Regions from separate parts of the Homo sapiens genome. Here region 1 is linked to region 2. Evidence: fine-mapped expression QTL. A gene starts in region 2. The other region holds a variant in brackets. All regions are shown on one strand. Distances are from middle to middle. Region 1 overlaps WDR89 (WD repeat domain 89). Region 2 holds the start of SGPP1 (sphingosine-1-phosphate phosphatase 1).

Evidence for each region.
Region 1: its variant is fine-mapped to the expression of SGPP1 in whole blood (INTERVAL, PIP above 0.99).

Annotation. Positions count from the first base shown.
Region 1 is chr14:63,635,028-63,640,404 of GRCh38, reverse strand. The region is part of intron 1 of WDR89 (WD repeat domain 89); the gene reads left to right. Among named protein-coding and RNA genes, the nearest start is that of WDR89, 4.2 kb to the left of the region's middle. The variant A/G (reference allele first, on the strand shown) is at 3,274.
Region 2 is chr14:63,725,290-63,730,666 of GRCh38, reverse strand. It overlaps SGPP1 (sphingosine-1-phosphate phosphatase 1), which reads left to right and starts at 2,602. Exons shown (of 3, transcript NM_030791.4): 1 at 2,602-3,406. The coding sequence starts at 2,723. RefSeq lists enhancers at 2,111-2,300, 3,261-3,310, 2,955-3,456 and silencers at 2,511-2,610, 2,901-3,000.

The DNA.
Region 1 (5,377 bases), 90 kb after region 2:
AGTTACTGACCTTTGACTGGACAAGTCAGCATCAGCTTTTTCACCTGTATAATTGAAATAAATACCAAACTTGACTACTTAGAGTTCTGAGGATTAAATAATTTAATAGATACAAAATATGTTACCGATGAAAGCCACGTGACTGTTTCTGCTTTTCAAATTCTTTCTTGTGGAGCCTGGACTGCACTGCAACCTATGGCCGAGTAAAACAGTGGTAACTTGCAGTCAAGTACCATTTAAGTGAGAAATCCTCTGAAACGTCTATGGACTGCTTATCTCCTTGTTCAGTATTCAGGAATACTTTCCTGTGAATGCAGCTATGTTACTTACCTGGTTTGTATTCTTACCTTAGATTGTTGTAGCTATTGTAAAGCAAAAGTAAGATCAAGCCCATGTAACTACTTTTTGGGTTCTTTTCTCTCACTTTGTAAATACAGGGTGTTTTTCCAGACGGGAGTGCGGTGGCACAGTCTTAGCTCACTGCAGCCTCGAACTTCTGAGCTCAAGTGATCCTCCTGCCTCAGCCTCCCAAGTGGCAGGGATTACACACGAGCCACTGTGCCAAACCCGTGAAGTTTTTGAGTTGTACTTTTGTACTAAAGTCATGACTACTTTTTCTGCAACTGACACTATGAGCTGCAAATACGACTGAAGATGCTACTGCTTTTTTACTTTTTCCCTATGTGCTTTAAAGAACTACATTTTCAGTGATTTCCATGTGTTTAAGATATTTTCATTTACTTGGTAGAAAATACAAGAGAATTTTGATAAATCTGAACTGGAATGGTCTTTATGTTAATTCTGTTCAATATTTTAGGGCAGATTATGTACAGATTATCGCCAAACTGTCAAAAGGGTGTATTTTGTTCATATAGCTACTGTAACAAATTACAACAGATTTAGTGACTTCGAATAACACACATTTATTCTTTCTGCCTTTGTTTCTTTCTTTTTTTTTTTTCCTTTGGTGAAAAGTACACACTTAAGAAAGGGGAGTGCAGATGTACTCAAGAGAGTCACCTCTTCCTTTTTTTTTTTTTTTTTTTTGGTAGAGATGAGGTCTCGCTATGTTGCCCAGGTGGGTCTCAAACTCCTGGGCTCAAGCAGTCCTCCCACCTTGGCCTCCCAAAGTTCTGGCATTACTGGCATGAGCCACCATGCTCAGCCTCATTTATTGTCTTTTAGTTCTGGAGGTCAGAAGTATGAAATCAGTTTCACTGGACTAAAGTCAAAGTGTTGCAGGCCCAATTCCTTCTGGAGGCTGTGAGAAGAAAATCCATTTCCTTACCTTTTTCAGCTTGTAGTGGCTGCCTGTCTTCCTTGGCTTGTGGCTCTTTTCTGCACAGGACATCATGCTATCATCATACCACTTTCTCATCTGTAGTCACATCTCCCTCTGCCTCTCTTATGAGGACATTTGTGATTATATTAAGGACCCCCCCAGATAAACAAGGATACTCTCTCCATCTCAACATACTTTGTAAAGTCCCTTTTGTCATATAATGAAACAGTCATAGATTCCAGGAATTAAGACCTTTGTATCTTTGAGGGCCAGTGTTCAGCCTACCACAGGAAGGTATAAAGAAGAGTAAAACATCCTATCCCATAAAGTCTCACAGGGACTATAAGAGAAAAACAAATTCACAGTAAATGGTTGCTGAGTTAGACTTTCTTATTACTGTGAAAATAACCTAAGTCACCACAGGTTGGAGCTTCGCCAATTTTTCCACTGGAATATCTTTAATAGCAAAGGTAAATGAATATTCCTGTGATATTTGGAAACAAAGCCTGAATTAATGCTTTAGAAGAGTAAAATTTCTTTGAATTCTAATCTTATAATTTAAAATTTTATGTGACTTTTGCATTCAGTTTTATATGTTCATGGTTGATGCTGTTTTGAATTATATTTAAGCATTGCTGTTCTAGAGAAAAGACTGTTTATTCTGTAGTTTCATTATTGTTTTACTTTTAAATTTATTTTTAGAGATAGGGTTCTCACTATGTTGCCTATGGTGGACTCAAACTCTTGGGCTCAACTGATGTTCCCACGTAAGCCTCCTAGCTGGGACTATGGGCATGCAACCCAGTGCCCAGCTAATGTAGCTTCTTGTAATTTTCTTTTTTGGGGGGGCAGTGACTTTTTTTTAAAACTTACTTTTTGGCCAAGAACGGTGGCTCATGCCTGTAATCCCAGCACTTTGGGAGGCCGAGGCGGGTGGATTACCTGAGGTCAGGAGTTTGAGACCAGCCTGGCTAACATGGCAAAACCCTGTCTCTACTAAAAATACAAAAATTAGCCGGGGATGATGGTGCGTGCCTGTAGTCCCAGCTACTGGGGGGCTGAAGCAGGAGGATCACTTGAACCTGGGAGGCGGAGGTTGCAGTGAGCCAAGATCGTGCCACTGCACTCCAGCCTGGGTAACAGAGCGAGGCTGTTTTGAAAAAAAAAAAATTTTTCCGTAAGTTATTGGGGTACAGGTGGTATTTGGTTATATGAGTAAGTTCTTTAGTGATGATTTGTGAGATTTTGGTGCACGTATCACCTGAGTAGTATACACTACACCATATTTGTAGTCTTTTAATCCCTTGCCCCCCCTCCCCCGGCCAAGTCCCCAAAGTCCATTGTATCATTCTTATGCCTTTGTGTCCTCATAGCTTAGCTCCCACATATCAGTGAGAATATATGATGTTTGGTTTTCTATTCCTGAGTTACTTCACTTAGAATAATAGTCTCCAGTCTCATCCAGGTCATGGCAAATGCTGTTAATTCATTTCTTTTTATGGCTGTGTAGTATTCCATTATATATATACACATATATATACACACACATATATATACACACACACACACCCACCACAGTGTCTTTATCCACTTGTTGATTGATGGGCATTTGGATTGGTTCCACGATTATGCAGTTGTGAATTGTGCTGCTATAAACATGCGTGTGCAAGTATCTTTTTCAAATAATGACTTTTCCTCTGGGTAGATAACCCAGTAGTGGGATTGCTGGATCAAATGTTAGTTCTGCTTTTTAATTCTTTAAGGAATCTCCACACTGTTTTCCATAGTGGTTGCACTAGTTTACATTCCCACCAGCAGTGCGGAAGTGTTCCCTGTTTACCACATCCACGCCAGCATCTCTTGTTTTTTTATTCTTCACTTATGGCCATTCTTGCAGGAGTGTGGTGGTATCACATTGTGGTTTCGATTTGCATTTCCCTGATCATTAGTGATGTTGAGCATTTTTTCATAGGTTTGTTGGCCATTTGTAT[A/G]TCTTCTTTTGAGAATTGTCTCTTCATGTCCTTAGCCCACATTGTGATGGGCTTGTTTGTTTTTTTTCTTACTGATTTGAGTTCGTTGTAGATGCTGGATATTAGTCCTTTGTCAGATGTATAGATTGTGAAGATTTTCTCCCACTCTGTTGTTGTCTATTGACTCTGTTGACAATTCCTTTTGCTGTGCAAAAGCTCTTTAGTTTAATTATGTCCCAGCTATTTATCTTTGTTTTTATTGCATTTGCTTTTGGGTTCTTGGTCATGAAATCCTTGCCTAAGCCAATGTCTAGAAGGGTTTTTCCAATGTTGTCTTCTAGAATTGTTAGTTTCAGGTCTTAGGTTTAAGTCCTTAATCCATCTTGAGTTTATTTTTGTATAAGGTGAGAGATGAGGATCCAGTTTCATTTTTCCTCCATGTGGCTAGCCAATTATCCCAGCACCATTTGTTGAAAAGGGTGTCCTTTCCCCACTTTATGTTTTTGTTTGCTTTGTCGAAGATCAGTTGGCTGTAAGTATTTGGGTTTATTTCTGGGTTCTCTATTCTGTTCCATTGGTCTGTGTGCCTATTTTTATACCAGTACCATGCTGTTTTGGTGACTATGGCCTTATGGTATAGTTTGAAATCAGTTAGTGTGATGCCTCCAGATTTGTTATTTTTGCTTAGTCATGCTTTGGCTATGCGGGCTCCTTTTTGGTTCCATATGAATTTTAGGATTGTTTTTTCTAGTTCTGTGAAGAATGATCGTGGTATTTTGATGGGGATTGCATTGAATTTGCACATTGCTTTTGGCAGCATGGTCATTTTCACAATACTGATTCTACCCGTCCATGAACATGGGATGTGTTTCCATTTGTGTTGTCTATGATTTCTTTCAGCAGTGTTTTGTAGTTTTCCTTGTAGAGGTCTTTTGACTCCTTTGTTAGGTATATTCTTTTTTTCTTCTTTCTTTTTTGAGATAGAGCCTTGCTCTGGCTCACTGCAACCTCCACCTCCCGAGTTTGAGCAGTTCTCCTGCCTGAGCCTCCCAAGTAGCTGGGACTACAGGTGTGCACTACCACGCCTGACTGATTTTTTTGTATTTTTGATAGAGATGGGGTTTCACCATGTTGGCCAGGCTGGTCTCGAACTCCTGACCTCAAGTGATCCACCTGCCCCGGCCTTCCAAAGTGCTGGGATTATAGGCTTGAGCCACTACCCAGCCTGTTAGGTATATTCCTAAGTTTTGTTTGTTTGTTTGTTTTTGCAGCTATTGTAAAAGGGGTTGAGTTCTTGATTTGATTCTCTGCTTGGTCGCTGTTGATGTATAGAAGAGCTACTGATTTGTGTACATTAATCTTGTATCCAAAAGTTTTGCTGGATTCTTTTATCAGTTCTAGGAGCTTTCTGGAGGAGTCCTTACAGTTTTCAAGGTAATTGACCATGTCTTCAGCAAACAGTGACAGTTTGACTTCCTCTTTATTGATTTGGATGCCCTTTATTTCTTTCTGTTGTCTAATTCCTCTGGCTAGGACTTCCAGTAGTACATTGAGGAGGAGTGGTGAGAGTGGGCATCCTTGTCTTGTTCCAGTTCTCAGAGGGAATGCTTTCAGCTTTTCCCCATTCAGTATTATGTTGGCTGTGGTTTGTCATAGATGGTTTTTATTACATTAAGGTATGTCCCTTATATGCTGATTTTGCTGAGAGTTTTAATCATAAAGGGATGCTGGATTTTGTCAAATGCTTTTTCTGTATCTATTGAGATGATCATGTGATTTTTGTTGTTAATTCTGTTTATGTGGTACATCACATTTATTGACTTGTGTATGTTAAACCATCCCTGCATTCCTGGTATGAAACCTACTTGATCATGGAGGATTATCTTCTTGATATGTTGTTGGATTCAGTTAGCTAGTATTTTGTTAAGGATCTTAGCATTTATGTTCATCAAGGATATTGGTCTATAGTTTTGTTTTTTGGTTATGTCCTTTCCTGGTTTTGGTATTAGGGTGATGCTGGCTTCATAGAATGAATTAGGGAGAGTTCCTTTGTTATCTTGTGGAATAGTGTCAAAAGGATTGGTACCAATTCTTTGAATGTCTGGTAGAATTCTGCTGTGAATCC
Region 2 (5,377 bases):
CTCCTGGGCTCAAGCAATCCTCCCACCTCAGCCTTAAAAGTAGCTAGGGCTACAGGCATGTGCCATCACACTCAGCTAATTTTTTTATTTTTCTTTATTTTTAGTCTGAGTCTAGCTCTATTGCCCAGGCTGGAGTGCAGAGGCACAATGTTGGCTCACTGCAACTGCCACCTCCCAGGTTCAAGCCATTCTCCTGCCTCAGCCTCCCGTGTAGCTGGGATTACAGGCACCTGCCACCATGCCTGGCTAATTTTTGTATTTTCAGTAGAGATGGGGTTTCACCATGTTGGCCAGGCTGGTCTCAAACTCCTGACCTCAAGTGATCCACCAGCCTTGGCCTCCCAAAGTGCTGGGATTACAGGCATGAGCCACTGCACCAGCCCCCCACCTAATTTTTTAGAAAATATTTTTGTAGAGTCAGGGTCTTGCCATGTTGCCTAGGCTGGTGTCAAACTACTGACCTCAAGTGATCCTCCCACCTCAGCTTCCCAAAGTGCTGGGATCAAAGGAGTGAGCCACTGCACCTGGTCTCTATGGACTATTGTTTACCAAATACATTTTTGCATATCCCTATCTTCCTTCACTTTCTCTTCCTAAAATGGGCTTCTTCACCTATTCATATTTTGCTCTGTAAAACAATCCAGCTCTACAGGATCACCTCCTAACACCTTTCTTCCTGTTCCTAGTCAAACTTGTCCTCCTTTCTGAGGCATGCTGTTTATGTCTGTTTTACACTTGCCATCTTCTCTATACTCTAGAAGTAGTCCTGTCTTTCTTTATCTCCCCTAAACTGTGAACAACTTGAGAGCATGGGTGATGATTTATTCCTCTTTCTATGGCCACAGCCTAGCAAGTGGAGTGGGAGGAGGAGAGTACCTGTCCCTGCGAAATGAAATTTTTTTTTTTTTTTTTTTTTTAAGATAGGGTCTTACTCTGTTACCCAGGCTGGAATTGCAATGGCACAATCAGGGCTCACCGCAGCCTTGACCTCCCGGGCTTAAATAATCCTCCCGCCTCAGTCCCCCAGTTATCTGGGACTACAGGTGTGGGCCACCATGCCCGGTTAATTTTCTTTTTTTTTTTTTGAGACAGAGTTTCACTCTTGTTGCCCAGGCTGGAGTGCAATGGCGCGATCTCGGCTCACCGCAACCTCTGCCTCCCTGGTTCAAGCAATTCTCCTGCCTCAGCCTCCGAGTAGCTGGGATTACAGGCATGCACCACCCCGCCCGGCTAATTTTGTATTTTTAGTGGAGACGGGGTTTCTCCATGTGGGTCAGGCCGGTCTTGAACTCCCGACCTCAGGTGATCCGCCCGCCTTGGCCTCCCAAAGTGTTGGGGTTACAGGCGTGAGCCACTGTGCCCAGCCCTGCCCGGCTAATTTTGTTCATTTTTTGTAGAGGTGGGATCTCCCTATGTTGCCCAGGCTGTTGTCAAACTCCTGGACTCAAGCCATCCTCCCTCCTCGACCTCCCAAAGTGCTGAGATTATAGGCATGAACTACCACGCCTGAAGGAAAGTATTTCTACTGTTTTAAGGGCATGGGACAATTTCAAGCCTGTTTCTTGGAAGTAGTTCACATTCTTTAATTACAGACATTCACCTGATCATGGCGGGTGTGGTGGCTCACGCCTGTAAACACAGCACTTTGAGAGGCCAAGGCAGGAGAATCACTTCAGCCCAGGAGTTGGAGACCAGCCTGGGCAATATAGCGAGACCCTGTCTCATCTCTCTCTCTCTAGGTATATATAAAAGACATTCACCTGACCTGAGGAGTTCAGAGACCTTATAAACTGCTCTAGCTAGAAGTCAAGTTGGTAACTTGTGAGACACGGAAGTTAAGCGTCTAAATTAACGTTACCAAACTCAAAAATCTATACACTGCATTCATTCTCTACATTTATTCTGTGCAAGCCCTCTAGGTATTAGAATCTAGGAAAAGGAAATTTTACACTTAAGAACACCTGTGCTCCCTTAACATATACCAAAATATTTGATAAATGACACAGTATTTTGAATTTGTAGGTGGCTGGCTTTTCTTTTGCAGACCACACCTGTTAATATCACCTGGCCCTGTCTTGGGATCTACATGTAGTCTTGTCACCACTGGTCAATTGGCACATGGTTTTCCGAACATCAGTCGCCTGGGACAGCTCTGTAATTACTTGTTAATTACTTGAGTCGAATGATTCCGAACTCATGGTAGTTGCTTCGCCTTCATTGATCATTCACCATTTGGTTCTGTGCCAGCAGGATGCCCGGCTGCTTGGTCACAGGCATTGCGCAAGCTGGCACCGGGATCGTGGCCTCTTTAAGTCAACTTCTGGCTGAGGGAATCCGGCGACACTAGCCCGCGGAGAAGAAGGGCTGAAGGTGGAGCAGGGGGACACGCCGCGTCCCACCAGACGTACGCCGCGACGCCTGCTGGTGGATATTACCCGGGACCTCAAAGCGGCCGCCCGCCGATCCTCAGCGCCAAGCCACGGCCGGATGCGCTCAGGGCGGACCCGCGCGGCCCGGCCCCTCAGGGAGCCCGGGTGGGGGCGGGGCTGGGCGGGGCGGGGCGCGGCGCGCGCGGGGCGGGGGCGCGCGGCCTGTGGCGCCGTCACCCGGCAGACTCCGGAGGGTAGAGCGCTGTGCCGGTTCCGCTGCCGCTGGCCAGGAGCGCGGGGACAGTTCGGGGCTGCGCCGGAGGCCGGCCCGCCTTCCCGGGGGTTCCGTTATCATGTCGCTGAGGCAGCGCCTGGCCCAGCTGGTTGGCCGTCTGCAGGACCCGCAGAAAGTGGCCCGTTTCCAGCGGCTGTGCGGGGTGGAAGCGCCGCCGCGCCGCTCAGCAGACCGGAGGGAGGATGAGAAAGCGGAGGCGCCTCTCGCCGGAGACCCTCGACTGCGAGGGCGGCAGCCAGGGGCGCCTGGAGGCCCCCAGCCTCCCGGGAGCGACCGCAATCAGTGCCCGGCCAAGCCGGACGGCGGCGGCGCCCCCAACGGCGTGCGGAACGGGCTGGCGGCCGAGCTGGGCCCGGCCTCGCCGCGGCGCGCGGGCGCTCTGCGCCGCAACTCGCTGACGGGCGAGGAGGGCCAGCTGGCCCGCGTGAGCAACTGGCCGCTCTACTGCCTGTTCTGCTTCGGCACGGAGCTGGGCAACGAACTCTTCTACATCCTGTTCTTCCCCTTCTGGATCTGGAACCTGGACCCTCTGGTGGGCCGGAGGCTCGTGGTCATCTGGGTGCTGGTCATGTACCTGGGCCAGTGCACCAAGGACATCATCCGCTGGCCGAGGCCCGCCTCGCCGCCCGTGGTCAAGTTGGAGGTCTTCTACAACTCTGAGTACAGCATGCCCTCCACCCATGCCATGTCCGGCACCGCCATCCCCATTTCTATGGTCCTCCTCACCTATGGCCGCTGGCAGGTAGGGTTCCTTCTCGTCCTGTTCAGCCTGGGGGAGTTCAAAGAACTCGGAGTTCTCTTTGCTCTCTGCATTTATTTTAATTCGACCGTTCCCCTCCAAAGCCTCTCTTTCCACAGGTTTTCACAATACTCGCAAACAGGCCCTTTCTGGGTTTTGAAAAATTAAGTGATTGGGGGAAACTGGATACTTAGCCGTTGAATTCTATTTTAATATTAAATTCCAATTTAATGCCTTAGAACCCAAAGGACACACTTTTCCTAGAGTAATACATTGTCATTGGGCTTTGGTTGAGTTTTTTAAACGGCTTTAATTCTTGTAATGCACAGTGGAAGTGAATTTTTTAAATAATCGCTATGTAAACTAAGACCCAGTTTCACCGTAATATATGGTGCCTTCTTCCCTAAAACTGTTTCAGAAAGAGGTAAAGTCATTAGCTTTACCGTGAGACAGTGTTTACAAAACGTTAGTGTAATTCCAAAACAAACATGCTAGTTCCAAGCAATGAAGTAATCGATTTTCATCGAAGTTCCCTTTATGGAAGTTAATGGAGCACAGGGTGAGTTCTGTTTTTAAGGGGTGTGGTTGCTACTTTGCTGATAAAGTTTGATTATCTTCTGGATCACTAATCTGTAGTATCTAACAGTTGTTGAGCTACAACTGTAATACTATAGTGTTATTGCCTCATTAACTCTAAAAATGCATGGTTTAAAAGTTATTCTTAAAGATAGGGCTCTTGATCAAACTAGTGGGTTTATAAAAATGGCAAATATGACAGCAGGGTCAGCCTGACAATCAGGAAAATTTTTTTTTTTTTTAACCCTCTCTGAAAACTGCCAAGGGAAGAGTTTTTAATGGTAATCGTTTTTATTTTGCTTACTTCTTTTGGCCTTCCAATGTTTATCTGTCTTTGAACTGTAAGATTTGTTAATCCTGCAGACCAGTCCCTTATTTTAAGAATAAAGTGCGTAATTGTGGAGATTCTAAGGAAACAAACTTCCTCTATTTTTTCCCCCTTTACTTCACAAAATCATTTTACATTGAGAAATACACATTCTGTGTAAAACTCCATTATGATAAGCTTACTTATCCCACATTAAATTTCAGTGTAGATAAAATTTCGTCCCCATGGATACTTCTGTGTAGTGCATCTCTCTTACAGTACATGGAAAATACGCATTGTGCATAGTAAGAATGGCAGAATTAGGAGGAAAGAGTACCATGGGAAGTTTTTTTCTGTTTAACCAAAGGAGCTATACGGTGATGTTCAGATTGTGAAGCAGTGCTACCTGTTTTGCGTAACAGATAAATATCTCGAAGTTTTCATTTAATCTAAATATTTCAGAATTTAAGATTTTCAATGAGCTGTGTTTGGCCTGGTGATGTTAGCTGATGATGTTTCTCTTATTTTCGTGAGACTTTTAGGATTCTGTAACAATAGAGCCTTTTATGATGCCTTCTCAGTGAGTAGCTATTTTGTATGCTATTAGTATTAGCAGTCAAAGTAAGAGAAAATAGCTATTTTTGCTCTTTATTTGTTCTGGACACATACTAACTGGAAGTCTGAAAACAGTACTGCTGAATCGTTTATGGGATATTGATATTCTAACATTTCAGGGTTATTTGAATTATCAGAATAAGCTTAGATTTAGTTTTTAAACAACCTAGTATATTTAACTCAAAGTTTAAGAAATTTGCGTATCATAGAATTTTAGACTTTGAAGTAGACCGGATGTTAGAAATCACTTAGTTTCAAACTGTCATTTTACAGATGTGCAAACTGACCAGTTACATTAAAATTAATCTTGTAATGCTTTAAATTTCTTATTTTACATTTTTTCACTCTAAATTTGCATGATTTTTCGGTTAGTTGTTCTGAAAGAAAGCCTCCTGACGGAGTCTCGCTCTGTTGCCCAGGCTGGAGTGCAGTGGTGCAGTCTCGGCTCACTGCAACCTCTGCCTCCCAGGTTCAAG